Linked DNA regions of Homo sapiens: region 1 is linked to region 2. Evidence: fine-mapped expression QTL. Tissue or cell type: whole blood. Region 2 holds a variant in brackets; the other region holds the start of a gene. All regions are shown on one strand. Distances are between the middles of the regions.

Region 1 (16,205 bases), 22 kb before region 2:
TCAAACTCCTGGCCTCAAGCGATCCTCCCGCCTAGGTCTACCGGAGTGTTGAGATTATAGGTGTAAGCCACTTTGCCAGGACCCTCTTGGATTTTTATGGAAGCTTCATGAATCCAGCATTCCTTCCCCTAGGGTATATATGGTGGACCCTTTAAGACCCAGAATCCGAAAGATGAGGGGTGGGGGAAGCCCTGGCGAGGTGGCTCATGCCAGTAATCCTAGCATTTCGGGAGGCCAAGGCCGGAGGATTGCTTGAACTCAGGAGTTTCAGGCCACAGGGAGCTATGATTACACAACTACACTCCAGCCTGGGCAACTGAGTGAGACCTTGTCTCAAAAAAGTAAAAAGAAAAAAGAAAAGCAGATTAGTGTCTTGCACTGGGGCAGGTGAAAGAAGGGCAGGAGAAGCCGGGCACGGTGGTTCACACCTGTAATCCCAGCACTTCGGGAGGCTGAGGCGGGCGGATCACCTGAGGTCGAGAGTTCGAGAGTTCGAGACCAGGCTGACCAAAATGGAGAAACCCCGTCTCTACTAAAAATACAAAATTAGCCGGGCATGGTAGCACATGGCTGTAATCCAGCTACTTGGGAAGCTGAGGCAGGAGAATCGGTTGAACCCAGGAGGCGGAGGTTGTGGTGAGCCAAGATTTGGAGCCATTGCGCTCTAGCCTGGGCAACAAGAGTGAAACTCCATCTCAAAAAAAAAAAAAAAAAATAGGCAGGAGAAAGTCAGAGAGCAACTGTTTCCTGAGGCCTGTCCCTGAGACCTAGCAAGCCCAACATTATAACAAGAGATTATAACAAAGGCTATGGGAATAGGCCTGGCGAGGTGGCTGAGACCTGTAATCCTAGCACTTTGGGAGGCCAAGGCCAGTGAATCCCTTGAGCTCGAGCTCAGGAGTTCAAGACCAGGCTGGCCAACATGTAGAAACCTTATCTCTACAAAAAATACAAAAAGTAGCTGGGTGTGATGGCGCACACCTCTAGTCCCAGCTACTTGGGAGGCTGAGGTAGGAGGATCACTTGAGCCTTGGGGGGTGGAGACTAATACACACATAAAATAATATCACACACATAAAATAATATCACAGTCATAATCTATTAGATTTGGAAGAGTGTTAGAGTCCATCTAGGTCAATCCCCTTTTTTCACAAATGAAGAAAATGAGGCATAGTGACATCACAAAAAGCTGAGATGAAACCTCAAGTGTCTAGATTTCCAGTATAATCTTCCCAGTAGCCATATTGTATTAAATAACCACATTGATTTTATAGTTTTCCTCTTTGTATTTGTTTAGAATCATAAATGCCTAAAGTTTTCTAGGTAACATACACTGTTTGAGAACCCTCAATTTCGTAATCGTGTACACATGGACACATAAAAACACTGTCTTTTTTTTTTTTTTTCTTTTTTTGAGACGGAGTTTCGCTCTTGTTGCCCAGGCTGGAGCGCAACGGCACGATCTCGGCTCACCAAAACCTCTGCCTCCCGGGTTCAAGCTGTCCTCCTGCCTCAGCTTCCCAAGTAGCTGGGATTACAGGCATGCGCCAACACGTCCGGCTAATTTTGTATTTTTAAGTAGAGACGGGGTTTCTCCATGTTGGTCAGGTTGGTCTCGAACTCCTGACCTCAGATGATCTGCCTGCTTCGGCCTCCCAAAGTGCTAGGATTATAAGCATAAGCCACCGAGGCTGGCCAAAACACTTTTTTTTTTTGAGACGGAGTCTCACTCTGTTGCCCAGGCTGGAGTGCAGTGGTGTGATCTCAGCTCACTGCAACCTCAGTCTCCTGGGTTCAAGAGATTCTCCTGCCTCAGCCTCCTGAGTAGCTGGGATTACAGGCACATGCCGCCACATCCAGCTACTTTTTGTATTTTTAGTAGAGACGGGGTTTCACCACGTTGGCCAGGATGGTCTCAATCTCCTAACCTCGTGATCCACCCGCCTCGGCCTCCCAAAGTATTGGGATTACAGGCATGAGCCATCGTGCCTGGCCAAAATATTTTTTTTTTAAAATGAATGTTTGACAATTGAGAGAAAGACCAAAAGCAGGAAATTAATAATCCACTAAGTTTCAGTCACAATGTAACTGCCAATGTTTGAATCTTTTCTGTTTCACTCTATGTGTCTGTGTGTAGGATCGGAAAGGGAGATGGCACTGGGTTTCTGTAAGGTGTGAGTGAATCTTGGGTTTTGGAAACACTGAGATTTCAGAAAACAGAATATAAATTGTAGATGTCCCAATTTGGCAAGAGATAAGCTCTGTTTTTGTTTAGAAAATTCTATAGATTCATAGATAAGAAACTATGGGCAAAAGTGTTTGATACGTAGATCAACCAGTATTTAGGCAGGGATCATGTCTGTGAAAACCTTGAAGTGTGCAAGGTGGGGTAAATGAGAGAGTAGCTCTAGACTGAGCTGGACTGGTCTATCATCCAATGAATCTCTAGGATTCTGATGGTGAAAAGGTTATTTTCTCCTTTCCTGCTCACTTCTGTGGCCCTGACAGAGGGAAGAACTAGTAGCTTCTGTGGTAGACTATATATATATATATATATATATTTTTTTTTTTTTTTTTTCTTTTTTGCTCCCTGGAGTGTTTGTCTCCCTCCCCTTTGGATAACAAAATCTGCTCTACCCGCCATGTCCATGGTGGGAAAGGAGTTTTCTTTTTTGTTTTTTGAAACAGTCTCGTTCTGTTGCCCAGGCTGGAGTGCAGTGGCGGGATCTCGGCTCCATGCAACCTCTGTCTCCTGGGCTAAGCGATCCTCCCACCTCAGCCTCCTCAGTAACTGGGATTACAGGCACGTGCCACCATGCCAGGCTAATTTTTGTATTTTTAGTAGAGAGGGGTTTTGCCCTGTTGACCAGGCTGGTGTCGAACTCCTGGGCTCAAGTGATCCGCCCGCCTCGGCCTCCCAAAGTGTTGGGATTACAGGCATGAGCCACTGTGCCTGGCCGCAAAGGAGTTTTCTTTGGCGCTATCATCTCTGCTGGTTGGAGAGGATGACAGAAGAAGGAAATGCTGAGATGAATGGAGAGAAAAAGAGAATGAAGGAATGAAGGAAGGACGATGACATCCTTTGTAGCCCTGAAACTCGGACTCTGGGTTTCCAGATAGGTGAGCCAAGCCCCTCTTCCTTTTTTTCCATAAGCCATTTTCATCTGGGCTCCATTCACCTGCAACTGAAGGCATCCTGATTCATACAGCTCCTCCCCCTTTCCCTGCCTACTCACAGGATCCCTGTAATCCCTATACCTCAGTTTCCTCATACTGATCCCCTGTGGATTAGTTGATCACTGATAAAGTTGATTTTTCCCACCAAACACAGAGTGCAGTATTATTATAAACAGTAACGTCTATTCTTAGGAACTGCAGGTTTCCCGTCTTGGCTGCTTTACCAGAGTTTCTGAATCAGGGCCAGCTCTCTTTCAATAACACAAGACAATCTAAGCAGAATAGTAATGATAGTCCAAAATTTTTACACAATCCAAAGTACCAGCGACTTTCAGTGACTTGTATAAACAAGGTCCACAGACGACCAGTAGGGTTGAAAGCATCATTTTATTGTATTTGGTTTGTGCTGTGGCATTTTATTGAGGCTTGACAAATAAGACTGTAATTTGGGGACAGGAAGCACTGAATAACAAAAAGAACTAATGTCTCCTTGACATCACTCACTCTTAAGAGGGCTGTTTACATCTGAGTTTACCTCCTAGTGTGTTTTAAAATACTCTTGCAAATCTCAGTTGGCTCGAAATAGCTGTTCTATGTTCTTTCAATGGAAGCCCCCACCTTCTGAGTACACTGGTTCATAGTTATTTATAAACCTGATGTCACTCAAATATTATTTTTACATCCCTCTCCTTACTCCCTCACATATGAAGATAGACCTATATAAAATTAGAAACTTCACATAAGGTATTCAGTCACTTAGGTAGGAATTATTGTCAGTCAGCAATCATTTATGAAGCATAAATTCATCATATTGGGTGAAGCATGTCTGTAAAACTGTTCCGTGGTAACCAGCTCTTTCTTCTTCTTTTTTTTTCCTTGGTGTTCTGAGGCAATTTAGGAAAAGCAATGAGGGCTGGGGGCTGGACTTAAAAGGTCTGTTTTTTTAAATTTTTTTATTTTTCGAGACAGAGTCTCGCTCTGTTGCCCAGGTTGGATGGAGTGCATGATCTCGGCTCACTGCAACCTCCACCTCCCAGGTTCAAGCGATTCTCCTGCCTGAGCCTCCTGAGTAGCTGGGATTACAGGCGTGCACCACTATACCCAGCTAATTTTTTGTATTTTTAGTAGAGACGGGGTCTCACCGTCTTGGCCAGGCTGGTCTCGAACTCCTGACTGCATGATCTGCCCGCCTCTGCCTCCCAAAGTGCTGGGATTACAGGTGTGAGCCACCACACCCGGCCCAGCTCTTTCTTTCTTTCTTTTTTGAGACAGAGTTTTGCTCTTGTTGCCCAGGCTGGAGTGCAATGGCAGGATCTCGGCTCACCGCAACCTCCACCTCCCGGATTCAAGCGATTCTCGTGCCTCAGCCTCCAGAGTAGCTGGGATTACAGGCATGTGCCACCACGCCCAGCTAATTTTGTATTTTTAGTAGAGACAGGGTTTCTCCATGTTGGTCAAGCTGGTCTGGAACTCCCAACCTTAGGTGATCCACCCACCTCGGCCTCCCAAATTGCTGGGATTACAGGCGTGAACCACCGTGCCTGGCCAGGTCCAGCTCTTTCTTAAAAAAAGATTTCTGTGATCAAATTAGTTTGTAAAACTACATGCCCCTTTGGGGATTTCTAAAAACCCTACAGTAAAGTAATCGAGTTATCTTTATTATAAGGTAGCAGTCTGCAAATTTATTTCATCGAAGAATTATTTTCTTTTCAGTCCCACCTAGTAACATTTCATGGAATCATATGTCTTGAATCCCATTTTGGAAAACCAGGGAGGTGGCCTGCACTGGGTATGTGGAGCCGAGAGTCCTGAGTTTGACCCTTGGCTCATCCACTCAACTGGTTGTATGACTTTGAGCAAATCACAACCTCTTAATATTTCATTTTCACATTTGAAGAGTGAGGACAGTAATACCTGTCTTGATCTAAGTTGTTTTATGGTTTAAATGAAATTATTATGACAGTGTGCTTTAAACACTATTAAAGTTATACAAATGAAAGCTATCATTAGATAGCTCGGATAAATATGAGGTCTTTTTGGAAATTAATAACATACAAGTGTAAAGAAACTTAACCTAGCAACTTTTACTGAATGATTGTGGATTTGAGTTTACTTAGGGGCCAGCACTGAGGGGGAAAAGCAGCATAATACAAAGGTAAAGGTAGGACTAGAGAATGTTGGGTGTAGAAATGTCTTTGGGAAATAACTGAATTTAACCCTCTAATTTTTAATTTTATGTTTGTAGAGATGGTGTCTGGCTATGTTACCCAGGCTGGTCTTGAGCTCTTGGGCTCAAGCAATCCTTCCGCTTTGGCTTTCCAAAGTGCTAGGATTAGAGGTGTGAACCACCACACCCAGCCTAACCTGCTCATTTTATAAATGACAGACCCAAGGCCTATATGAGGCAGGTGAATGGCATATGGTCACTCAGAGACTTAATATTAGAAACATCTGATTCCCTCATTGCCAATGGCTGCCTCAATATGAGACAAATCATGGCCCCATCCAATTTTCAATTAAGAGATACAAGATACTTACATGACATAATCAGAAAAAAATACAACAGAGAACAATTTTTTTTTGTTTGTTTTTGACAGGGTCTTTCTCTGTCACCCAGGTTGGAGTGTAATGGTGCAATGTCAGCTCACTGCAACCTCAGCCTCCCGCTCAAGCCATCCTCCCACCTAAGCCTCCCAAGTAACTGGGACTACAGGTGCACACTACCATGCCTGGGCCACCACGTCCAGCTAATTTTTTTTTTTTTTTTGGTAGAGATAGGGTTTCACCATGTTACCCAGGCTGGTCTCAAACTCCAGAGCTCAAGTGATCCTTTTGCCTCGGCCTTCCAAAGTGCTGGGATTACAGATGTGAGTCACCACATTCGGCCTCAGAATAAAATTTTAAAGCTCAAAAATTATTGCCAAAATAGGAAGGGCAATGAGAATCCAGGAATGAGTAGGCCAAGCAGCGAGGCTGGATTGGAAATGGGCCTGAATTTGGGGCCTTGAAGAACGTATAACACTACATTGGATTTAGATAATGCAAGAGGAAAACTAGCAGAGTTCCAGAATGGAATGGAAGATGATGGTAGGAGACTAAATGTTGGGCAATAGTCTAAATAGTTGGGCATTATAGTTTTGGTGAAATATTCAACAGTAAGCATTTACTGGACATCTTTCAAATTTGATGAAGTTTTTGGAGCTTTGGAGGGTATGAGAAGTAGACAACATCATCTCTTTAGGGAATTTCCTTTTTACTTGGAGAGAAGAACTAGAAACATTAAAAGTGGAGAATGTAAACAAATAGGATGCAATGCAAAGGGGTGAAATATGCACTTCTTTAAGTATGTATGTGAACCCCTACACCTACTTCAAAACTCCTTAACACCTAGTCATCTCAGCAATGTGTTCTTTTTAGCTTCTTTTCTACATTGCTGATATAGTACTTTTTGGAGGTATCACAATCCATTGTAAACTCTGCCTTTTTTTTTTTTTTTTTTTTACTGAGCTGTGAGCTTCCTGTGTCCTCAGGGATGAGGACAGTGCTGGCATAGAGTCTAATACAATCAATGTACCTAGACATGTTCTCATCCCTGCCCCTCCAATTGAAGAGGTCAAGGCTTTGAGATGTGAAAATCATCATAAGAAAAGCTGCATTTGACTTACAGAAAATGAAAAAGAGGAGGAAGGAGCAAGAAAAGCCTTGGATGGTCTTGCCAAGATGGTAGGGGAAGGAAGTTCATTAGGAGTAGGTTACTTTCACAACAGGAAAATCTTTCAACCACTAAGAAGGCCAACCTTTTTTCTCTTTCAGGGAAAACAACACTAATATTATTCAAATCTTTTGGAAATGAGCAAATTCCTTCCTTTCCCCTCTGCCCTGAGGCCTCAACTTTACACAATAGTTTTTCACACCAGGTGACCTGGAGCTGGTAGCCTGGCAGGGGAGTTCGCAAGCCCAGGACTGAGAAGTCCAGGCCCCAGGGCTAGTTAGGGGAACAGAAAAGAAACTCACCTTTGTTCATTAATATTTGCCTAGGGAATGAGGTATCTGCGTTAAACTTACAGAAAGCTGGTTAAAATCTTAACAACGTGGAGACGTGGAGATTCCCAGTATGCCAGTCCTAATGATCAGAAAGTTTTTAGAAAACACCTTGGGTGGCCCTACTGTAGTCTGCCCCATTGGATCCTTCCCAGGAAATGGCACCAGCGTACAAGTTTTGCAGTATTCAGGGCACAAAAGATCATTTATTTTTCCAATTGTGAAGTGAACATTAGATAAAATTATTTCATTTCAGATTTTTTGAAAAGGTAAAAATAATAAGGAAAATACCCTCTCGAAAAGGCTTTTTATTTCGTTTACTGAAAGCTTCCAATAACGTGCCTAGTTTTAAACTAGGTTACTGTTATTTATCACATAATCATCCCCACAGGTTTGATCACCACTAATTTGCAGATGCGGAAACTGACAAGCTCAGAGAGGCTCTCGGTTGCCTTTTGGGAAGTGGCCAAGGCGCGATTTGAATCCAGGTCTCTTACCTCCAGTTTCTGAGACCTTTCTAGACACCAAGGTTATCTCTTCAAATACTGCTGCAAGTAAACAGCTGTGTGAGTATCTAGACTTTTGAAGTTAGCAGACTCTAGGGAATAGGTAGAATAAAATATATGGGTATGTGTTCGCGGGAGCGCTTCTGCCACGTTTTATTCCGAGGCTAGCCTGAGAGATCATGGAAAACATTGCTTCTCCAAAACCACAGCGAAAAACAAGGAAATTAACAAGGCAGAATCGCGATGCGAGACTTGACAAAGTTGTTAATAAGGCGAAGGCCCAAAGCGCTATGCCAGGGCCTGCTACTTCATTTGTTTCAGCGATTAAACCAGCACGACAGGGGGCTGGAGGCAGGTAAAAAGCAGGCTCTTGCGTGGCCCGGACAGTTGATATTCCTGGCACTCGGTGTTCGAGATGTTTCCTTACAATTGCGTGTCTGTGCGGCTCGGTCTCCATATTCCACTCATTTTTGTCTCAACATTTTGTGGTATTTTATCACAAAATACGCCCGGCAAAGCAAAGATCCCGTTCAGTCTCTTTAAACACGGCTATCTTTTCTCAGGAGGCAGCCGCCGGGGCTTCACTCCTGGGCCACCAGCGACGTCCTCCAAGCGGGTCGAGCGGAGGCGCGTTCGCGACCCAGGGGCAGCGTGCCGAGCCCGGGCGTGGGGGGGCGTGGCCTTTCCACTCGGCGACCCCCGGCCACCGCCCACCCCGCGCGTGGGGGCGTGCGCGACTGCGGGGCGCGGAGAGGGGTGACCTCGGACTACCCTAGGCGCCCGCAGCACGCTCTGTACACAGACGCGAGGCGCTGTCCTGAGGTGACACCGGCTGCACGGCACAAGCAGCAGGCGCCGCCGATCAACTAGTTCGCACCGAGGATTCCTCTTGGTGCGTGGCCCAGTTTTCCTTAGGACGGGCTCCAACCCCTCCCTGACACCGCCCCCCTCACCGCCACGCTCCGAGGCCTTCCCCGGGGAAGCCTCGCGTCCCTCCCCCGCGGCTCCGGGCCGCACGCGCGCGATTCCTCGATTCCACAGGCGGTTCGCGCCGCGGGTGGGGGCGGGGCGCGCGGGGAGGGGGCTGGCGGCCGCCAGGGGAGGGGGGCCGGGGCCCGGGGGGCGGAGGAGGGCCGGCGTGGGGAGTTCCTCGCTCGCGGACCACACGCTCCGCGGGCCAATCCCGAGCCAGCCTCTAGCAGTGTCGCACGCGGGACACGTCCAAGCGTTTGTTGGCACGGCCAGTGAGGGGGAGGGGGCGAGGAGGAGGGAGGGGAGTTGAGTGACAGGCTTTGCGGGGCAGGCTGGGAATTGTAGTTCCCAGCTTCCGTGGCCATAGCCATTTTGTAGTCGGGGGACTACAACTTCCAGAAGATCAAGGGGACCATTCTAAGGTGCCCCGGGAATAGGCGGCTCTCCCCGGGGCCGGGCGTCCTGGGGCACTCCTACCCAGCAGCCCGGCTGCAGGTAGACGCGAAGGCAGTGGCGGGGGCTGGCGTGGGGCGGCCGTGGGGTGAGCGGCAGGCAGGGGAAAGGGGGTGAGGTGGAGCGACGGAGCGTGCCATGCATTGAGCTAGGGAGCCTCTCTCAATTCCACGCCTGGGCTCGGCGTGGGAGCGACGCCCGAGGGCTTGCCTGGGAGGGGTTCGTCGAGGTCGCTCGGGTGTCTGGTTGGCCAGGCTGCGGGGGTGCCCTGGACTGGGCCAGGGGCGGTCGGCACCAGGCTAAGCGGGCGCCTGGCGGCTGAGCGGTGGGAGTTTTCGGCTGGCGCCCGGCGGGGAATTATCCGAGGAGCCCTAACTTGTATAAAAGCAGAGTCCATTTAAAGTTGGGCTGGATAGCCTCTCTCTCATTGGTTAGGGGGCTTGGAAAAAAGAGACTCGGCGAGCCCTCGCTGTGGTGCTGCCGCCGCCGCCGCCGCCGCCGCTGGAGTTGACTCTTCTGCTCGCACTGCTGCTGCAGCACAAACGTGACTTCCAACATTTTTTATTTATCTTTCCCTTTTCTTTTCCAAGATGTAACTACGGATCAGACACTAAGGACCTTCACGTTTCGCTGATGTAGTTTTTGGAGGAAAAAGGGGGGGGAGTGAAGGGCGTCGGTTTTTTTTTGTGTGTGTGTGTATGTGTTTCGGGGGAAATTTTCCATTATGAGTGTTTTACTAAAGTGAATTTTTTTTTGTTTGCTTCGTTCGTCTTTGGCTCTTTTTTTTTCCTTCCCAATTTCGGATTTATTTCAAGGCGAATCTGGCTTTGGGGGAAGAGGAAGAAAAGTCGGATTACAAGATCAACCACCACCAACAACAATAAAAACCACCAGGATATTTTTTTGCAAATTTCTGACGGCTTTAAATTCATGAAGCAATTGTCCCCTTTTGCAATCAGCATTTGGATCTCAGAATGAGCAAGGAAAGACCCAAGAGGAATATCATTCAGAAGAAATACGTAAGTGCTCCTAACAACACATCCTTTGACTTGCAGTTTTAAGCAATGGCTGTGAATGTCAAGTTTATAGATAATTCTGCCTCTGAAGGGTTTTAAACACAGCGTCCGATAAGGCTGTTTCTTTTTTTTCTGAAAGAGGGCTTTTCAAGCAAAGTGGTGTCTGCCTAGTTTGGTTGAAAAAACAGACTGGTGTAGAGATACCTCAAGTGAATAAATTGACCTCGAATGACACAACCATAATCTACTTTTAGATGAAAGGCAAGGGATTTTGGTGGAGCTTGAGGTGGGGGGTGGCTGCGGTAATGTAACTAAACTGCATTCTCAAGCGGATTTGGCCCCGTATTGCACTTTGCATGCAAATGAGCCTGTGTTATTATTATTAATGTTATTTGGAAAAATCGTGTAACGCATGTGTGTTGGAAGCCCTTTAAGTTGCGATCGAGGGTCCGATTATGGCGATCTTCTCTTTGCACTGGCACATCAAATTTAATGTCTGTGGTCGTTTTGGCTTATCTGGTTTGCAACATAAACCAGTTGGGAATCATGTTACAGCGAATGCATTTGTTGGGATTGACTTTAATAATGAGGCTGGTTTTGTTTAAAAAATTCATGGTTTCCAGTTGTAGGGGAAAAGGACACACACTATGGCTAATGTTTTTAAGTGTGTACGTGAATGCATATGTAAGTAACTACAAATAATTTCTCCCTGTTAACTGGGCTTCTGAAATTGGGTGATTATTCCTAGATTTAAATGGCTTGGAATAGTTAAATTTGTTTTGTGCATAGTACAGCTACGTTTTGATTGGCATGGGGAGTGTTTTTGTTTTGTGTGTGGTGGCTTTTTTTTTTTTTTAAGTTTGAGGGGAGGGAGGAAAGGGGGACCGAGGGATTAACCAAATATGCACTCGAGTGATCTGTGATTAGCTGCATGCTTTAAATTAAATAACTCTTTTTTTTTTTCAAAAAAGGCCAAATGAACATACCTTAGGAATAATGCAACGTAAGAGGAAAGTTTATTTAAGTTGGGTAGACAAATTGGTGTTAATATTTTCCCTTTTTGATCATTGTGGTGTGTGTAATGAGAGATGACCTTCGGGGCACTGGTTTTGTAAAAAAATATATTTAATGGAAAAGCTGAATGCCTCTTCAAGAGAGCTGATCCTTATCTAGACACGTCAACTTCAACTATGAAAGAAATGCAAGGTTAAATAATCAAGCCCAACTTAGAAAGCTGTTCCATAAAGAATTTAAGAATTAAAATACATCCGCATTGCAGAGGGCTGGGTAGAATGCAAAGGACTAGTTTAAACTCGGGCTGTAGAAACTGCACTGAGGCAACCTTGTCTTGGAGCGTGGACGCCTTCCCGGGGCACGTCCGTTTCGGATGCAGCCACAAAGCAAATGGGGTAGAACTTGGACGAGAACCGCACCCCGCCTCCCATTCCGGACCTCGTTGAGGTGGAGAGCAGCGTGGGGTGGGTTTTCTTTCTTATTGCGGGCGTTCAGCGGATCGTGTCTCCGAGTCCGGGCGTCCGGCTGCAAGCCCGTGGCTGGCGGCGGCTGCGGGAGGCACGGCACGAGTTAATGCACCGGGAGCAGAGCCGGTGTTCCCGACGTCCTCGAGCCGGCTGCGAAAGGGACGGCCCGCGGGGGTCGCGGCAGGCTGGGCCGGGGCTGGGCGGGCGGGCGCGCGCGCGCGGCCTATAGGGGGCATACTCCGGGCTCTAGGCGGGCGCGCGAGGCGGGCACCGGTCTACCCGGGCCGGCTTGCAGGCGGGCAGGAGGGCGGGTGGGGCGCGGGGGTGGCGCGGCCTGCGGGGCGCGGGGAGGGGAGAGCGCGCGGGGAGGGGGTGGGAGCGGGGGCGGGGGCGTGGGCGTGCCGGGGAGGGGGCGCGCGGCGCACAGCTGCAGCGGGCGCCCCCCACCGCGCACACGGCCGAGCATGGCGGCGGCGGCCCGGCCGGCTTCCCGCGGCCCTGCCTGCGGGCTCCGACGCAGTCTCGAGAGCAACAGGTTAAGCCGGCGAGACGTCAGCGCGCCCCCTCTCCGCCCCCCGGTTCTTCCCCCGCCGCGCGCCGGCGCCCCAGCCCTTCTTCCCTCCCTCCGCCCCCCGCGGCGCTCGGTTCCCCGACGCTCCCGGCCGCACTCTGTTGTCATTGTGACGTCACAAAGGGACGGGCTCGGGTGGAACCTTCCCCTCCTCCTCCGTGACGTCAAAAGTCGGGCGGGAGGCTCCAGGCGCGGCGGGGCGGCGGGGGGAGGAGGGAGCTGGGCGGGGGCGGGGGCTGCCGCAGAGCCGGGCTGCGGCGTGGGAGGAGGAAGAGGAGGAAGATGCGCTCGGCCTCTGCCTTCCGCTCCGGAGCGTCGCGCTTCCCACCAGGTGAGGGCCGGGGAGCCGTAGGTCCCCAAAGGAGTGCCACTGGACCCTGTTCTGATGCCACTTGGGAAGCGGGGAGCGGGGAGGAGGCGCCTCCTTTCTGCAGGAATGTTTTCACTTCCTCTGTTCCAGGTCTCCTGATGGTGTTGCATTACTAGCGTGGTGCATGTGTCCCCTCTCCAGTGCTTATGTAAAGAAATGAAAGTATTCAGGGAAAGCTGTGCTTTGTTGGAGGACCGCGTTGTGGATTTGGCCACCTTGTCACTTGAAGTCGTGTTAGGGGTGCTTCAGCAGGATGTGGCCGGATGCCTTTCATGATGATGCTGCACAGCAGCAACTGTTGCTCTTTCTGGAAGCTTTGTGGTACTACGGTGGGGGGGCTTTCCTTTGCTGTGCCGGCTCTGTACCTACTGACTGTTATTTTGGGGGGCTGGACCAAAGGAAGACTTGTCATTGATAAATGTACTGAGAAGAGCACAGGACTCCTTTAAGTCTCAAGGTGCTCTGGGCTTAGTTCTTCTGAGCAGGGAAACCAGAGGCTGGCGTTCTGTTTTCTCTTTTGTAAAATGGAAAAATACCTGCCATTGCCACTTAACTAAGTCACTGAAAAGATCATGTGCATGGAAGATGTAAAACAGTATGCCTCTTTATAAGTAAGGTGGCATTATTACTTGAGCTGGTGGAAGGCAGCACGTTTCCCACAATTGGTCTCAAAAGCCCGGGATGCCTGCTGAGTTGCCATTTAGTTTATTACCTTAGCAAAGCAGAGTTGGGGGTGCGATTGTCGATAGTAGGCTTTGGGAGAAATGATTGTTATATTTCGTAATAAATGATGTCCTTGAGAAACTCATAAGTTGCAGTGTAATCCTGTCTTAATTGTGTTGAGCACGACTCCCACTGCAATACCTTAAATAACTGAAAACATTTGCCTTTGAAAGCCCCAATCGACTTGGACAATAAAAACAGTTGCATGTTTTGCTCTAGAGATATTTTCTGCCGTTTCCATCATTCCACTGCCTGGTTATTCCTAGGGAGAATAACAGATAGGATACTGGGGCTTCACCACTATTTGATCAGGTATCAGTTTGAAATAGAGAATCTCTGCCTTATGAAGATAGTAATTCCTGTAGTTAGCATGAAAACAAATTGCCAGTTTGATTTTCTAGGACAGCTCAAGCAGAATTTGTACCACTAGGCTGTAAGTTTTAAGTATCTAATTTTCTGATTTGAAAGTGTATGATTTAAAAATTGGAAAAAGTTTTTGTTATAAGCTTCAAAAGGATTTACTATAATTACAACTACGTAAAATTACAAAGAAAAAAGTAGGAAGAACACAAAATATACAGTGGTTGGATTTATGAGGTTTTTTGTTTTAAAACTTATTCATCACAAATTGTTCAGTCACGTTATTTTACAGTTGGTGGGGTGGTGGGGAAATTTGCACGTTATTTTATTGCTGTATTTTTTCTTTCCTGGGATGTTTACGTGGCTTTTCAGTTACTTGTTTCTAGTAGTGGAAAATCTTGCTCTGTGTTACTTAGGTGCAGGGCAGTGGCAGTTTAGCTCCTATCACTGTACAGGGACAGTATGGAAGGAAGACACAATGAAGTCCAAAGTGTCACTAAAATTTGAAAGAAAAATTATGTCGACAAGTAATCCAACTTGGTTTATTATCCAGGTTATATTATTTTACAGTAGGCTAATACCTAACTTGTGTGTCCCTGTAGCCACTGGCCCAAATAGACAACTAGAATTATTTGGTACTCGGTAATGCCTGTTTCCTCATAGTGGGTTAAACCAGTCCCTGTTGCTGGGCTGAAGGCTATTGACGCACTTCCAAGTGCCTTGGAAATAACTCCAGTGTTAATATATACCGTACTCCAAATGTTAAACTTTCCTCCTTCAGAACAAGACAATCTTTTGGAGTATATAATTGGTGTCTGTTACCTTCAAAATGGAACTTTTTTTTTTTTTTCAGAGAAGACACGAGAATGTCATATTAAAAGCGTAGTTCGTTAAAACACTTGGTGAAGGCTAACCTAGAGAGCATTTGTTTTTTTGTTTCCTTTTTTTTTTGAGACAGGGTCTTGCTCAGCCACCCAGGCTGGAACGCAGTGGTTCCTCACTGCAACCACTGTCTTCCGGGTTCAATCGATTCTCCTGTCTCAGCCTCCCGAGTAGGTGGGATTACAGGCACCCCCTATCATGTCCGGCTAATTTTTGTATTTTAGTAGAGATGGAGTTTCATTTCACCATATTGGCCTAGCTGGTCTTGAACTCCTGACCTCAGGTGATCTGCCCGCCTTGGCCTCCCAAAGTGCTGGGATTACAGGCGTGAGCCACTGCACCCAGCCAGCTGAACATTTTTAAGCTAGTGGTTTGCCCTTGCTCATGATGGTGTGAGGACTCACACTCCTGACATTGTCTGAATTCTGGCTGCATTGCTCTGATCATCCTGATGTTACTGGTCCACGTCTCCCCCAGGATTACAGTAGTAGCAGCTCTACTAACCACCTTTTGTCTACCCATCCTGCTTGCCCTGTTGGCTGCAGTATGTCCTGACTGATATCCCAGGATACAGGTCCTGGCCACCTCTGGGATGTACCTCTGTCCCCTTTGGCTTTCACCCAGAAGTCTTGCCAAGTGTCAGTTGTTTGTTCCCAAATCTGGTTATTCCAGTTGGGCTTATTATTGTAATTACAGTTAAGTATTATGTCAACCTTGAAACAGTGTGAAAAAGAGCGTGGTGGCTCATGCCTGTAATCCCAGCACTTTGGGAGGCTGAGGTGGGCGGATCATGAGGGTCAGGAGTTCAAGCCCAGCCTGACCAACATGGTGAAACCCCGTCTCTACTAAAAATACAAAAATTACCCGGGCATGGTGGCGCATGCCTGTAATCCCAGCTACTCGGGAGGCTGAGGCAGCAGAATTACTTGAACCCAGGAGGCGGAGGTTGCGGTGAGCCGCTTGAACCTGGGAGGCGGAGGTTGCAGTGAGCCGCTTGAACCTGGGAGGCGGAGGTTGCAGTGAGCTGAGATCCTGCCACTGCGTTCCAGCCTGGGCAAAAGAGTGAGACTCCATTCAAAAAAAAATGTGGGCCAGACATTTTTAAGATGTTTGGGAAAATCTGAAAGGACTGTCCACACACATTGCTTTGCAAGTGATTCCCTTTTAAGAACCAAACTTCAGTTATGCCCAGACTTCCCCAACAATCAAAACAGCATAATGTAGAACAACAGAACGTTCAGAGACTTAAGCTCAGAAAGAAGACCCATGGCCTCATATCAAAAAAACCGTAATTAAAAGTAGATTTGTCTGTCAGTTAATACAAAATGTTAGGGAATACCTTTTTTTTTTAAAAATTGTTTGTTATCTAACAAACTTGTTCCCATTAACTAACCAACTTCTGGTTCTTGTCATCTCTGATAAGAGTGCTTCCAACTGTGTTTAGCCTTAATCCCCGCATGCTAAACTGGACTCCCTGTCTGCTTCATGCCATGTAACATGTAAAGTGTGGATCAGTTTAAAGTAGTCCTACTGAGGTGATTGTATTACTTTTGGAGTTAAAATAATTGTGCCATTTACTGAGTGGCAGGGAGCAGAAAGATTAGTAATTTTGCACCTAATTCATGGAGTTCAGAAGCTTCTATCTTGTAATCT
Region 2 (16,205 bases):
TGTTATTATAAGTCTTACAGATTCTTGTGGCTGTAATTCTCCAAGTGCAAGATTGAAGAGGAAACTGTTTCTGGGTCATCTGTGCTGATTATAGTATATCCCAGTTGTTCGAGGAAGAGGATAGAAATTCAGATAATAAGGGTGCTTAGCACCTTTCCTTCTCACCAAGGCTTGGTTTTTCTTCCTAACTTATGGAAAAATGCAGTGTGAGTCTCTTTACACCCAGACATATTTTTGGATGGATGGGATTTTTATCTTCCCTCTGCCTTCCCTGGTTTGTGAGGATGAGGGTAGTGTTCACAGTGTGACTAAGAAGCAGCATGACTTTTTTGCATACTTTTGAATGAACTACTTTGCCTGCCTTTTATTCTCCAGGCAAGATGTACCCTTAGAGATGAGGTGGAACCTAACACTTGGTTTTACCTAAATTGCCTCCTTTTCCATTCTTACACTGCCCAGAGCACTAAAGCTCTGTTTGTTCTATTTTCAGCTTGTAATAATGTCTTGATGTTGGAGGATGAAAGAGCTGATGTGAATAGAAGGCATTTAATAAGGAGTCATGGTCTGGAGTCCCAGTCAAATTGGTAGCACATGGTTTTCATCTGCCTTGAAGGGCTTGGTTGCATGGTCTTGCCTTCCCAGAGCTGTGACAGCACCAGGCTGGACCCTATACACAATGCCACATCTCCTTCTCAAACTGATGATTTGGAGTGGCAAATGCCACTGGCTTTGAGAGATGCCAAAAGAATGGTGGACTTGGCTTCTTAATCTTTTGAAGATCATAAAATGTTTGCTAGGGCTCGCTCATCTGCACTTAGGACAGGGGTTAGATGGGTATGTTGGGGAGATGAGGTTATTTTAGTGGGGTTTGGTTAACGTTCAGTTTTAACCACTGTTCAGCCTTCTCACTGGGACTCCTAGCTGGTTACATTTTTTTGATGGGGGTTACTTTTATATATTTATGTATTTATGCCCCTCATTCTAAAAAAGGATTTTAAAGCCACGATGAGCTGTCATTCCAGGAGCAAATAATTTTTACTTAGATCTGACTCAAGTTCACTTTCCAAATGCAAAAAAGGGACAGTCAGATTAAACTGTGGACAGCAGAGTAGTTGTTCATTCATCTCAATGCAGCAGTGTTTGGGCCTGGCAGTGTTTTTGCTTTTGGTTTGAGGTCTTGACCTAAAACTTTAAGTAAAGGCAAGTTTTGCTTAATAGTATTGGTATTGACACTCTGACAGATCTTTTAATCTGAAAGAATTTTAAAGATGCATGAAAGTAATCCCCAGTGATGATTACATCTTCGAGTGGCAGAGATCAGATTTTTATTTAAATACCAATGCAGTTTATCACTTTTTTCCACAGTGCAGGGGGCCAGGGAGGGTCTGGATTTGGGAGGGTCTGGATTTAATAGTGAACTTCTGAACTTGACTTACTTTGAGGGGAGCGATTGGTGGGTGTTACTGCATGATTCAGTGTTCTGTGTCTTTAAAAATGTTTTGAAATACTCATTCTGTATTGTAATCCTCAAAACTACTGTTAGGATTCCAAACCATTGTGGTTTAAACTTAGCTGGAATCTAAAAGGTGGCTGACAGAGGGAAAGGAAACCTCCTTTAAATAAAGAACATATTTGGCTTGCCTAAGTGTCCCAGAGTCTGGGCTCTGGGCATATCTAAGCCATGGGCCAAGTCTCATAGTTGAAGAGGTCGGGAAATACTTGTCTCAAATATAAACACCAGCTCAATATAAACACCATCAATTAGTTCTGCAGAAACTCCTGGTACAAATAAGAACTTGCAAAGCTTCATGTTCAATGGAGTTCTTGTCTGGATGAGATAAGGAGTGCAATACTGCACGCTCTTCTGTACTTGTGATAAATCAAAACTCTAATGATGCTATTAAAATGGGTTTTCTTTTGGCCCTGGTAAGCTGGAAAGCATTGGGAGGTGGGGAGGATAGATTTCACTTGGAAATACCTGAAGCTAAAAAGTGGTGGCTTTTTCTTCTTTCTTCTAAATGTACTCCTTGCTCTAATTAAGCGATGTGATCACTGTCCCAACACTGACATACCCCAGGATGAAACACACTTTCTATTCAAGTAGCCTTTTTTTCCCTTGCCTTCTTCCATGAGACTTGCTGAAATTGTCATGTTATTTCTTTCCAGAATTTATTGGAGCATTAGGCAAAAGCCTCTTGGGAGTATAAATAATGATGATTATAAAGAACAGTCAGTTTACCAAGGAAGGCCATTATCTTTGACTTGCAAAGCTTTTACAGCCAAACATTGTTTGCTTACAGTTCTTTAATACAAATGAAGACCTTAATGGTAAGAAGAGTCCTATTACTACTCCCTTTGTACATGGAGGTCATCCCAATAAAGAAAGGACGATGTCACTTTGCTCAGGCATTAACAGCTTGTTTTTCAGGACAGGCATTATATACGGTCTATGAAGGCCTTGGATGGTGTTTTTTCTTCTTCTTCTTTTTTTTTTTTTTTTTTTTTGAGACGGAGTCTTGCTCTGTGGCCTGGGCTGGAGTGCAGTGGCGCTATCTTGGCTCACTGCAACAACCTCTACCTCCCAGGTTCAAGCGCTTCTCTTGCCTCAGCCTCCCAAGTGGCTGGGACTACAGGCGTGCGCCACGACACCCACCTAAATTTTGTGTTTTTTGTAGAGACAGGGTTTCACCATGTTAGTTTGCCAGGATGGTCTCCATCTCTTGACGTTGTGATCTGCCCGCCTTGGCCTCCCAAAGTGCTGGGATTACAGGCGTGAGCCACCCCGCCCGGCCTGGTGTTTTCTCTTCTAAGGAATGTGGTTTCTGCCATCAGCAGCAAGTAATCCTCCTTGCTGAGTGTTAAAAGATTTCTAAAGTTGATAAGGAATACTGAATTTACTTTTGTACTCCCTACTACGTCCTACTGTATATTGTATACCTTATATACAAATTCAGGGATTTTTTTTTTTTTTTTTGAGATGGAGCCTTGCTCTGTCACCCAGGCTGTAGTGCAGTGGCGCAATCTTGGCTCACCACGACCTCCACCTCCCTGGTTCAAGCAATTCTGCCTCAGCCTCCCAAGTAGCTGGGACTACAGGCGCGCGCCACCATGCCCGGCTAATTTTTTGTATTTTTAGTAGAGGCGGGGTTTCACCGTGCAGGTCAGGCTGGTTTCAAACTCCTGACCTTGTGATCCGCCTGCCTCAACCTCCGAAAGTGCTGGGATTATAGGCGTGAGCCACCGCGCCCGGCCCAGGGGATGGTTTTGACTTTGTCTGAGTAGGCACTGACATGGAAAAGGTATGTATAAATGAAGAATCTCATGCCTTTTTTTTTTTTTTGCCTGTTAATTTTCTTATTTTAAAATTTTTATAGAGGTGGGGTTTCGCTGTGTTTCCTCGGTGGGTCTTAAACTCCTGGCCTCAAGTGATCTTCACCCCAGTTCTTCCAGCCTCTTACACCTACGAATCATTTTCTGTCTTTGTGCTTTTGCTTATTCTGGATATTCCATGTGAATGGAATCATATAATATGTGGACTTTGTGTCTTGTGTCTTTTAAAATTATGTTTCTAAAATTCATGCTGGAGTGTGTATCAGTACTTCATTCCTTTTTGTGGCTGAATAACATTCCATTGTATGGATGTATCATGCTTTGTGTATCCAGTCATCAGCTGATGGACATTTGAGTTGTTTCTATGGTTTGGCTATTTTTTTTTTTTTTTTTTTGAGATGGAGTCTCACTCTAGCCCAGGCTGGAGTGCAGTGGCGCAATCTTGGCTCACTGCAACCTCCACTTCCGGGTCCCTGTTCAAGCAATTCTCTTGCCTCAGCCTTCCGAGTAGCTGGGATTACAGGTGTGCGCCACCACGCCCGGCTAATTTTTGTATTCTTAGTAGAGACGGGGTTTCACCACGATGGCCAGGCTAGTCTTGAACTCATGATCCACCCGCCTCGGCCACCCAAAGTGCTGGGATTTATAGGCGTGAGCCACCGTGCCCGGCCCGTTTGGCTATTTTGAACAATGCTGCGGTGAACGTTTGTGTGGAGGTTTTTGTGTGGATTTGTTTGCATTTCTCTTGGAATACCTTGTTAGAAAAGCGTGCTTATACGTATTACTACTAAATTTATTTTCTGTCATTAAGCTGTGTTTCAGTTCATGCCTCTGAAGTGATGTGCTCTGTTCAGCAGAGTCCTATGCTGTGCCCTCCCCTTCTGGGGCTCTAGCTTGCCCTTTGGAGGGTGTGTGTTTGTGTGTGTGTGTGTGTGTGTGTGTGTGTGTGTGTGTGTGTGTGGTAGGGGTCCTCATTTTCCTTACTGCCTGTCACTCTCCATGTCACTGTGGGTGGCCAAGAGTGGTCTCATTTCCTCTACCCCTTTGCAAACCGTAAACACTGGTCACACGTGCTTGTGCTGGAATCATATGCTCCAGTGGCTTGATGGTGGGACTTCAGATTTCCTGCATTACCTTAGGTTTTGACTTTCTTGTGGTTACCTCTGTCAGCATTCTTTGGCAGAGGACTATGGGGAGTAGAATGACCTAGAAATTATCCCTGATTTTCTTCTCCTTCCAAGCCTGCTGAACCAAAAATGGTTTTTATTTTTCTTTGAAAAACTACCCTTCGTAATGAACTCCATTAAGAAATAGGAGTTCTTCAAAGGAGGAGGGATGTTACTGTATTCTTTTGATTTCTCTGAATTTACTAGATTTATTTTCCCCAAGTTGGTGTGAAATTGTTGAGATTGGTCCTTAACTAGAGTCAGACAATTTTTTTTTTTTTTTTTTTGAGACAGAGTCTCACTTTGTCGCCCAGGCTGGAGTGCAGTGGCGCGATCTCCACTCATTGCAACCTCCGCCTTCCGGATTCAAGTGATTCTCCTGCCTCAGCCTCCAGAGTAGCCAGGATTACAGGCACCCGCCACCACGCCTGGCTAATTTTTGTATTTTTAGTAGATACAGGGTTTCACCTTGTTGGCCAGGCTGGTCTCAAACTCCTGACCTCAGGTGATCTGCCTGCCTCGGCCTCCCAAAATGCTGGGATTACAGGCGTGAGCCACCGTGCCCGGCTGGCAATTTTTATTTTTTAGATACAGGGTGTCGCTGTGTTACCCAAACTGGAGTGCCGTGACGTGAACGCAGCTCACTGCAGCCTTAACCTTCCTGGGCTCAAGCGATCCTCCCACCTCACCCTCCCAAGTAGCTGGGACTAGAGCTGCGCTTCACCATGCCTGGCTAATTTCAGGCAATTTTTAATTGTTAGAAAAACTGTAAGGCAACATAAGAGAAGTGGATGGTGGGGACTGCAAATGTCATGTGGCCTAGTGGTATTGAGAAGCATTTTGTGAAGCAGAGAGTGCGTGTTCCGATTCTGTAGGAGCACATGTCTTGGTGTGGGTGTCTTTGCCTTCCTAGAACTTCCTGATGATAAGAAGCCTGTAAACACCAGTGTGTCCGTCAGTATTTGGAATCTTGTTTATTACATAGTCCTCAGGTTCATTGTCAAAAAATTCTTTACTGATGGTATTAATCAGTATTTGGAATCTTATTTATTTCATAGTGCTCAAGGTCATTGTCAAAAAATTCTTTACTAATGGTATTAATCATGCTTCTCACACTCCAGTTTTTCTGGTATGGTTTTCTGTTCCAAATTGACTCCTGTGCTCAGGTCATTAGTTTGGCTTACTAACAGGAGCCCTGACAGCTATATTCAATATTTTTCTCTGCAGTGGCCAAGTAGCCAAGAATTTACTAGTTTAGACACCCACCTCAGTTTAGAAGGTAGGTGTGAGTGTGTGTGTGTGTGTGTGTGTGTGTGTGAGAGAGAGAGAGATAGAGAGAGAGAGAGAATATCTAAGAAGGAGTTAATATTTTAAACTTTGCATTGTTTAACTGGAAATCTGTGTTCTGCCGGGCCGCTTTTATGTGGTGTACCTATAACCTATACACATACTTGTGCCTTTCAAAGGCTAACGCCACATCCCTCCTACTAAAATTGCTTATTAGAGCTAATTTTAAGAATTGAGTTAGAACTGCCCTATAATGTAATGCAGAATATTTCCCAATAATGCCTAGGTTAACAATGATAGTCTTGCTGTATTGTGCAAAAAAGGCTTCTGTTCAGACCCAGCTGGGTTTCAGGCTTAATTCATTGCTCTATGGTGGGATCACCACAGCTGCTGTGGGGCCTTTACAAATGCAAAAAAGCTGTCAGTGTTTGTTTCATCAGCTGCATAAGTGATGAGGCCAAGTTGAGGAATCCATTCCAGTGCGCAGTGTGCAGGCTGTAGCTATTATTGTTTACAGAATTAGTGTGTTGGAGCTTTAAAATAGTTGGCACATCGTCTGCCCTTTAAAAGCACAAGACTAAGGAATGAGACCAGTTGGTTGTCCTTGTAATGTTGGCCGGATCCAGCCCAGCCCTTGTCTTTTAACAGCTACTGCTCCGGGCTGTGCTGTGGGACTTGACTACTCTTTGGAGGAAGTGGGGGTGCTTGCTGAGTTCTTGTCTCTGTAGTTCTGCATCCCAAACTTAGGTTTGCATTAAAAAAAAAAAAACAAAAAAAAACCACGCAGTCATTTAGAGTTCCATAAGTGTAATTGAGATTTAAAGCCTTAATCATCCTCCCAGCCCCAAATAGGTATAGGACTGTCAGCTGGGATTTCAAATATCTGTGCAGTAACATTCCAGATTTGGCTCTGTGAGATTTATTTTGTGAAGTGATACTGCTTTGGGACTTGCCCTCATCTCTCCCCATGGGTACAGAAGTTAAGGCTACTTCTTGGCTGGCAGCCAAGAAGCCAGGAAAGCCCCATTGGACAGGTCACTTTCCAGGCAATTAAGGAGTATTCTGCAGGGCTCTCCGTGAATGCTGTCTTAACAGTGTAAGGTGACCCTCTTCCCCAGGGACCTGATGAGCCCGGGCAGCATGTTCACTTGCTTTTGGACTGGGCAAGCAGGAATCTGGGACCAGCATCATGGTCATTCACAGGATAGTGTGGGATTGTCCCAGCCCCTCCCTCATTTACATTCAGACCCCTTCTCCACTCAGGGGTCTCTGCCTCATGGAAACTGGAGGGCATGGGCGGTGGCTGGTCTGTTACGGTTTTGAAAGTGGAGCTCATCAGGTCTCCTAGCCAACGGGGGTGAATAATTGTGCTTCCTTCCTCCCAGCTGGAAAAGGTCCCAAAGTGCTCTCTCATATTCATAAAAGAGATGGCACGAGGCTTAGTGTCTCCAAATTAAAGGTCAATACTGATCAGCTTTCTCTCAAAGAACTGTCACATATGCTCTCCTGGAGACATTTGTGTCTTCCCATTTTACCTTAGGAAGTCTCTGGAGCCCAGGAAGACAAGTGTGTCCGATGAATCTCCTGTGGTGTTGGTACTGATTAAGCAGAGTTTGGGGATCCTTGTATGGCCCCTCTTTTAAAGAGCTTTTTAGCACGGTCTCTGCCAAGTATATTTTAACTATTAGTTACAATGATCTTCCAACAGAGAGCAAACAACATAAGTAATAGTTTAGAGTTTTACTTCTTAACGTCTTCCCAAATTCCTTCTCTTTCTCTTTCTTACCTGCACCCTGGAATAGTAGTAATGAAAAGGAAAATAGCAAACCGTGAGCTCCATATCCTCTCCCGCTGGGGGAAGGACTAATTTGCAGGGCCTCATAAGGAAACAGCAGTTTCATGGTCATTGTTGTCAGCCTAGCAGCGCTTGGTTGCACTTCCGTTGCTCAACGTGTTTCTCCTGGCTAGGGTGTTTGTAGTATATTTTGAGTTTTAGGAATCTTTCATCAAAGTTTCTTCTGCTTTTTTGTCATTTTAAGGCAAAACATTTTCTTTTGGTAGCTTGAAAGTTCTACACTCTCAATGTTTAAACATTTTTTGGGGGCAGGGTGAGAAACAGCTTTGTGGACGCATATCTGATTGTGTGTGTTTGTTATTTCATGTCAGAGTCATCTCATGACCCCAGGAGACCTCGCCAGTGGCCTGCCTCCTAGAAAATGCACTGCTGTAATAACAATCAGGGCGCCAGCTGACCACTGGTTGTCCCTCAGCCACTTATTAGCTGCATGTCCAGGAGGATCACCAGGCCGTGGTTTAAATTCTCAGTGTTCTCCATTGTAATGTGGGGTGCAC[G/A]TGCGTCCCTGAGTGGAGATTAGGTGCTCTAATAGGCACAACTGTGCCCCTTTCATTGTAGGCATTCTCTTCCACCTGTATATTAGTATTGCTTCTAGCTGCGTGATCGAGGGTTTGGGTTAATGCTGACATATTGCAACTTACTGGATGGCAAACAGTTAAGTTGTCTTCTTTGGCTGTGGGGAGAGATGGTGAATTCAACACTCTGAAACTCTGAACACAGTGTCCAAAGAGACCCTGGGCTTCCTGGAGTGTTATTCTCTTACTCTCCTAAACTATTCTCCCACTCCCATGAAAAAGAAAATCTTAAAGCGGCTTATCAGTATCTGACATAAGACAGAGTGAGGCCTTTCCTTTTATCTACATAGAGATAGCTCAAAGATCTGCTTGAGGGGCAGCAAAAGGCATGTCAGCAACCACCAGGAAAGGATCCTGAAGCCTAACCAACTGGTTATAAACAGCAGTAGGTGCCCAGGAGGGAACCGATACCTTCTGCAAGAGCATCAGTTGTGAAATGGCCTAGGTACAAGGATGTTCTTAGAATCAGGTTTCAAATTATAGTAACATGTAGACAGACTCTGAATGCTCTGGGAATGGAGTAAGCTGGTTCTAGTGAATTTTCTGGTTGACTGTTTCAAGCCATGGCATTAACTCCTTATGAAGGATATTTTTTGGCTGTCCTGTCTTCAGAAGTCCGGTGTGACGCGCGAACTCAATGGTTGCGTTCCCGAGGACCTTATGGAGTGCTTCCTGTCTGTCTGCCAGTGCTTTGTTACTGTGCACCTCTGTAGATATGCAGTAGGGGGTTTTTGGGTGGTGTGCATGCTGATCCCCAGAGGGTTTATATTTTACCTGCACTCCTGAGGATGTGTTTGTGTTGCTTGGGGCCCTGAGAAAAAACTGCATTCAGCGGAGGATTTAGTAAGAAGAAAGTTGGTTCCATGAAGTGTACATCAGCAGCCCCCGAGGATGCTGTGGGGTTGCAACTCCTAAGGCTTAACTGCGGCGGGGATCGGTTAATAGTATGGACAACCCCACACCCCAGAACAGGGGATAGGTGATGGACGACAGTGGGACACCATACCTAATGTGCATGCCTGCTTCCTAGAAATTGTGATAGTGTGGTGACTCTTTCCTTCTCTGAAAAGACCAAACCCCATCACTTAATATGGAAATTTAAAACCAAACCTCCAAACCCTTCTGACAGCATTTTTGACCAAATTGGCTTTTCGTAAGGGTAGAGCTAGATTTTCCGAAGAGCTTTAAAAACACAGCCTAGAAGCTTATCTTTGTGAACTTTTGCTGTTGTCAACAGTGGATATCTTGCTGCTGCTAATAGAAAACAAAAAAGTTCATTTGCCAAAATGCTTGTCATTTCCTCCTGAGGAGTGCAGCTTAACGCCAGGACTTCATTTAGTCAGAGGGAAATGGTTGCTACCTCCCTGTTAAGCTTCTTTCCATTATCCAGTTATGGCAGAATGAGTGTTGGGGCGGCCTGGGGAGATGGGGGTAAAATAAAGGAACAGCTAAGAAGTGGTTCTGCAGAATGTGTACTTATATCCGAAAGCCTGGATGGAAAGGACGGTGGCTTTGGAAGGGGTGTAAAATGGGAGGGGGTGGCAATCGCTGAAGCATGACAAGCCTCCGAAGGCCTCTGGGACTTGAACACAAAAAAGGGAGCTTTTTGCAGCTCTTTCACATGCACACGTCTCCCTCTGCCCCATCCATCCTCCCCTGCTGTTTTGTAAATCTCCCAGTTGGAAATTTTTAACATGGGAGAGCTTCTTCCTGTGCTTCAGTTGGCAGAATGCTCACACGCAGCTGCAAAGAATTTGCTTTTCCTTTTCACAGCATCTCTCATTTAAAAGCATTAGTGAGACTACAGAACAAAATAAAAACTTCAGGATTTTTCAGAAGTGGAAGCCAAGTTTAATTAAAGTCAAGGAAGTTCGGGGCTCTAACTCTTTTGTTAAACCTCTTAAAGTCAGGCGTGTGCGTGTGCCCATGGCAGGCAAGGTAGGAAATGCCAGTGCCTGTTTCTCGTTAGGAAATTTAAAGGCCTACTTGTCTGGTGTGTGCTTGGGGAATGTCCTAGAATTTATCAAAAGATGTGCTGAACCATCATGTCTTTGGTGGCCTCAAAATGCTTGCCAGTGGTGAGGTAGTTGCCCCTTTCTTGAGGGAGGAGGAAAACCGTTAAATAGCTTTCTGTCTCCTCCCAGGCCTCTGTAAAACCTCCTAATCTGAGTGCCCTGTTCCCTGTGCTCCACCCTTAGTCCCTAGACCAGGCCACTGGGCTGTGAGCATTCTTGTTGGGGGGGGCGGAAAGAAGTTTCTGACTCGATAACTGCCTCCTAAAGTTGGATTTTTAATCTTTCAATAGTATTTGAACCTTCAGCATTTTTTACATTTTATTTTAAGAGACAGGGTCTGTTGCCCAGGCTGGCGTGTGGTGGTGTGATCACAGCTTATTACTGCATCCTTGAACTCTTGGGCTCAAGAGATCCTCCTGCCTTCCCTGCCCCACCCCCTAGTAGCTGGGACCACAGGTGCATGACACCACACTTGGCTAATTTTTAATTTTTTTTTGTAGAGATGGCTATTTTAAAATTTTTTTTTTTTTTTTTTGGTAGAGATGGGGTCTAGCATTGTTTCCCAGGTTGGGTATGAACTCCTAGCCTCAATCATCCCACCTCAGCCTCCCAAAGTGATGGGATTACAGGTGTGAGCCACCTTGCCTGGCCCAGTTTCTTTGTCTAGGAGCCTTTACAAACATTTGCAAAGAATATCCAGGCAGTGTTTATGTATGTCTGCAGTGTTTTTACTGGCTATATAGACCACAGAGTCCAGAAGTGACTTGGATGGGATCCCCAGGAAGGATACTTAGAATTTACTTGACAGACTGAAGATTGGTAAACATGGTCTCAAGTTGAGTTTTGCTGGGAAATTGGTTAGCTTCGCTGCAACCTTGTCATTTCTTTCCTGAGTAATTATATGCAGACATTGGTAGAGGTTTTTTGTTTTTTCATAAAGAATATTAACACAAGGGTTGTATACAAAGGGAACATACTCATTTCTTAGTCTTTCTGTAGATCCTAGCACTTGTAACTGATGAAATGATTTGCCTCAGGGTCGATCCTTCCTTCCTTCCTTCAGTCCGTCCATCTGTCCGTCCGTCCTTCCGTCTTTGATGGACTTTCACTCATGTTGCCCAGGCTGGAGAGCAATGGTGTGATCTTGGCTCACTGCAGCCTCCACCTCCTGGGTTCACGCGATTCTCCTGCCTCAGCCTCCGGAGTAGCTGGGATTACAGGCATTTGCCACCACACCTGGCTAATTTGGTATTTTTAGTAGAGACAGGGTTTCTCCATGTTGGTCAGGCTGGTCCCGAACTCCTGACCTCAGGTGATCCACCCGCCTTGGCCTCCCAAAGTGCTGGGATTACAGGCACGAGCCACTGCACCTGGCCTGCTCAGGGTTTTTCTTGGTCTTCATGTATTTGATCCTATTGGTTAGGTAGCTGCAATCCCTTGCCCTCATTTTACAGGCATAGAATGGGTACTTTATTTAGGAAGGGTTATGATTGCGAGTCATGTCAGGTTACCAGAACTTGAAACTCTACCTTTGGACTTAGCAGTGACTGTGTTATTAAGGTGTTGGCATTTCCTTTAGGTTCTTGCTCTGCCTTGAAAAAGCTGACCAGAGGCCATGCATGGTGGTTTCACCTGTAATCCCAGCACTTTGGGAGGTCAAGGTGGGGAGATCACTTGAGCCTAGGAGTTTGAAACTAGCCTGGGCCACATGGTGAAACCCTGTCTCTACTAAAAATAGAAAAAATTATGGTGGTGCACACCTGTAATCCCAGGTACTTGGGAGGCTGAGGCAGGAGAATGGTATGAACCCAGGAGGCAGAGCTTGCAGTGAGCGGAGATCTTGCCACTGCACTCCAGCCTGGGCAACAGAGCAAGGCTCCCTCTCAAAAAAAAAAAGGAGAGAAAAGAAAAAACTGTGGGACCTTGGGCAAATCCCACACTTTGCTTTCCCACAGTTGTTTTCCTTAGCTGCAAGTATTGTGTGATGGGAACACAGAGTTCCCCTCCAGAATGCTATGATTTTTGTCTTTCAGAAGTTTGTAGCCTTTCATTTTATTTCATTTTAGTTCTACAAATATTTATTGTCTACTTTGTATACTTGTCCGATTGGAGATTGTTTTCTCAGGTGGTAGGGAGGGACATGTGTAGGGGGCATGCAGGATTGGGACCAAGGGAGGTTCAGGAGGGCTTGAGGCCAGTGGGTTCTAATCACACAAGGATCTTGTTAAAATGCAGCTCCTCATTCAGCAGGACTGAAGTGGGGCCTAGGATTCTGCATTCTAACAAACTCTCAGGGCCTACACTTCGTGTAGCAAGACTTTGGGACTGATTTTGTTCTTGGTGCAGTGGTTCGCTTCTTTTTTCTTTTTTAAATCTCACATCTCTGTCCCAACCTGAGCATCGAAGGGTAGGGTTCCCAATAAGATCTCTGCTACCAACAGAAGTTTGAAAACTATTGTTATAGAAGATCCAGGCCTGATGTGGTGGCCCATGCCTGTAATCTCATCACTTTGGGAGGCCAAGGCATGAGGCTTGCTTGAGCCCAGGAGTTCGAGACCAGCCTGGGCAACAATAGTGAGACCTCATCTCACCTTTTTCTGAACCAGCAGGGACTGAAGAGACACTCTCCTACAGTATAAAGATGTTTAAAAACAGTGATGCGGGCCAAGCACAGTGGCTCATGCCTGTAATCCCAGCACTTTGGGAGGCTGAGGCTGGCAGATCACTTGAGGCCAGGAGTTAAAGACAATCCTGGCCAACATGGTGAAACCCCATCTATACTAAAAATATAAAAAGTAGCTGGGCGTGGTGGTGTGTGCCTGTAATCCCAGCTACTCGGGAGGCTGAGGCAGGAGAATCGCCTGAAACTGGGAAGCAGAGGTTGCAGTGAGCTGAGATCATGCCACTGCACTCCAGCCTGGGCGGCAGAGCGAGACTGTCGCCTGTAGTCCCACCTACTCAGGAGAGGTTGAGGCATGAGAATCGCTTGAACCCAGGAAGTGGAGGTTGCAGCGAGCCAGGATCGTGCCATTGCACTCCAGCCTGGGCAACAGAGTTAGACTCTGTCTCAAAAAAACGAAAAAACAGCAGAAAAACAAAAAAACAAAAACAGTGATGCAATTGTAAGGCTTGAGCATTGCTTGAAAATGCATCTTTTGGCCCCGTGGCCCTCTATGTTGTCCTTTCTGAAGACCATTCTTCAGTTTTCATTCTGGAAGGAAGACAGCTAGCTATAATGCGTTGCCTGCATAGTGTTATCATGTACTTCCCAAAGCTTCCATGTCTTGCTTTAGTAGACAAAGAGCAGTGTCAGGAATTTCTGCGTAGAGCTCTTACTGTTTTGCTGGTTTCTATCCTGAACTCACCTTGAAAGCTTATATAGTTTTTAAAAAAGAGAAGTTGTTACTGGATAATAGCTACCATTGATTGAATGTATACCTACCCTAAATGCTTTACACAGACAGCATTTTACGTATTCACTTCTTACCACAACTCTGTGACTTAGCCATTTCCCCCAAATTGCAGCTGTGGAAACAAAGCAGGTAAAGGGGCCAGGGTTGGACCCCCCTACCACTACTTGACCCCAAATCAGGATGTTTCACTTTGGAGCCTGTGTTTGATTTCACTATCCTGGAAGGTGGTATTACCTCAGGTTTATGCAGCCATAGTCCTGGGTTTGAAGCCTGCCTCTGTCACAATCTCTGTGCCTCAGTTTTCTTATCTGTAAAATGGATGTGATAATTATAGTACCTGGGCCACTCAATTTTGCGTGGCACTGGCTATACATTTTATTTGTTGTTATGATTTTGTTTATTATTCTTGCCATAGTCACTAAGTTTATTTTCTTCTCCCTGCTCCCATTGGCTCTTTAAAAATCATTCTCTAAAATGTTAAATTAGCAATCTTAATGATTTTTCTTCCTGGAGTTAGGTTAAGAGGTTATATTTGTGTTTTCTTATCAACCTACAAAATAAAGCCTAGTAAGTTGCCATCTATAGAGAAAGCAGTTAGGGGATTCAGCATATGGCATTTACTAGATTTTGTTGGGTCCTCATTTTTTACGTGCTAAGTTTCCTCATGTGGGTGGGGAGGATGCCTTATGCCTGGAAACATCGCAGTTGCATGTAGTGGTCTCCCCTACCCTTATTTTAAAATACCTGAGTTTTATTTGTGAGCTATTGAATACACTTAGCGGGGCTCTCTGTAAACATACCCTGAATTTAATAGCCAAATGATGTACACATGGGATGTGCACATATAATCTCTTTTCCAATTGTCCCTGCTATATTTTCTTCCTTGACAAACTATAAAACCAAGGGAATGATTTTCAACTAATGGTTGTGTTCTTTAAAAAACTGTTTTTCAGCCAGATGTGGTGGCTCACGCCTGTAATCCCAGGACTTTGGGAGGCCAAGGTGGGTGGATCACCTGAGGTCAGGAGTTCAAGACCAGCCTGACCAACATGGAGAAACCCCATCTCTACTAAAAATACAAAATTAGCTGGGCATGGTGGCGCATGCCTGTAATCCCAGCTACTTGGAAGGCTGAGGCAGAAGAATCGCTTGAACCTGGGACTTGTGGGTTGCGGAGAGCCAAGATTGTGCCATTGCACTCCAGCCTGTGCAACAAGAGCGAAACTCTGTCTCAAAAAACAAACAAACAAGCAAACAAAACAGCTGTTTCTCAGGGTAGTTTTCTTGAAGCACGATTTTTCGAAATGTTGTAAATTAGTAGGACCCTGGCTTTGAGTCAGGATCCTAGATGGAATGAAATGACACCTAAAGATTGGTGTCATTCTTGGGGATACTCACTGAAGAACATACTGCTCCATTTTCTTTTCCCTTCTGCATTTCTCTGAAAAATTTTGTCTATATCTTTTTTTTTTTTTTTTAAGATGGAGTCTCGCCCTGTCACCCAGGCTGGAGTGCAGTGGCACGATCTCAGCTCACTGTGGCCTCTGCCTCCCGGGTTCAAGTGATTCTCCTGCCTCAGCCTCCGGAGTAGATGGGACTATAGGCGCCCGCCACCACGCCTGCCTAATTTTCTGTATTTTTAGTACAGACGGGGTTTCACCGTTTTGGCCAGGCTGGTCTTGAACTCCTCACCTCAGGTGATCCTCCTGCCTTGGCCTCCCAAAGTGCTGGGATTACAGGTGTGAGCCACTGTGCCTGGCCTGCTTCTCTATCTTTGAAAAAGGAGTTTTTGGGGGGCATTAAGGAAATTTGTCCCTTTTCATTTTAGATAGTTTTGGGGGATGTCTTTAATGTTTTTTTGTGGTTCTTTAGAGGTAGGCATATGAAGACACTGGTGCATTTTTATCTGCTAGAGAAATGGGATTGTTTTTAATTTTTACAGAGAAAAACTAAACATTTATATGCATTATTTAGTATTTTGTTCTGAAGAAACATGCTCTATTTGTAAAAGAGGAAATGTGTGGGAAAAGGGCAATTTGGCATGCTGTTGCATTTGCAGATCCAAATTTATTTTCCTTCATTCAGATAATTTAACACAGGCAAATAAGTGATGTTTCCAGAGTGGCTTCTTATATAGCAGCCCAGGAGGTGAGTGGGAGATTTCAGACCTCGACTTTTTGTGTGTGAAGGGGTGACTTAGCCAGGGCAATATTGTGTTGGCCTCTTTTTGATTCTGGGTTTTTTTGTTGGTGGTGATCCTGGGCACCTTCAGTCTTTGGTTCAGCCTGGGAAGGAGACTTTAGAGGTATCCACTCCCCCTTTCCCAGTTTTCTCCTGATTCTTCCTTCTAGTCCTTGTGCATATTAGTGGGATTCTTAAAAAGCCACTGACAATCTGATGGTCTAAAGCTCCACCTGCAGTTAGAAAGAAGCTGGTCAGCCTTCTGGAATGTTCTTTCTCCACTGGAGGCTAGTGAGCACCTCCAGACTAAAGGAGGTTTTGGTTGCGCTTTTAGCTTTGAGGAGGTCACTGAACTTCAAGAGCCCTTCTGGTTTCCCATTTTG

Evidence for each region.
Region 1: it holds the start of JARID2-DT, and the variant in region 2 is fine-mapped to the expression of JARID2-DT in whole blood (INTERVAL, PIP 0.92).

The regions. Positions count from the first base shown.
Region 1 is chr6:15,236,417-15,252,621 of GRCh38, forward strand. It overlaps JARID2-DT (JARID2 divergent transcript), which reads right to left and starts at 8,958. Exons shown (of 1, transcript NR_187237.1): 1 at 7,507-8,958. JARID2 (jumonji and AT-rich interaction domain containing 2) reads left to right here and starts at 9,653. Exons shown (of 18, transcript NM_004973.4): 1 at 9,653-10,168. The coding sequence starts at 10,124. JARID2-AS1 (JARID2 antisense RNA 1) reads right to left here and starts at 12,280. Exons shown (of 2, transcript NR_120502.1): 1 at 12,094-12,280; 2 at 11,399-11,728. RefSeq lists enhancers at 2,411-2,911, 2,912-3,412, 7,768-8,281, 9,471-9,520, 9,631-9,730 and 2 more and silencers at 8,281-8,590, 8,601-8,860, 11,846-11,905, 12,026-12,505.
Region 2 is chr6:15,258,828-15,275,032 of GRCh38, forward strand. All of the region lies in intron 1 of JARID2 (jumonji and AT-rich interaction domain containing 2), which reads left to right. Among named protein-coding and RNA genes, the nearest start is that of JARID2-AS1, 18 kb to the left of the region's middle. RefSeq lists enhancers at 5,891-6,400, 6,406-6,545, 8,540-9,098, 9,099-9,656, 9,657-10,215 and 1 more. The variant G/A (reference allele first, on the strand shown) is at 8,136.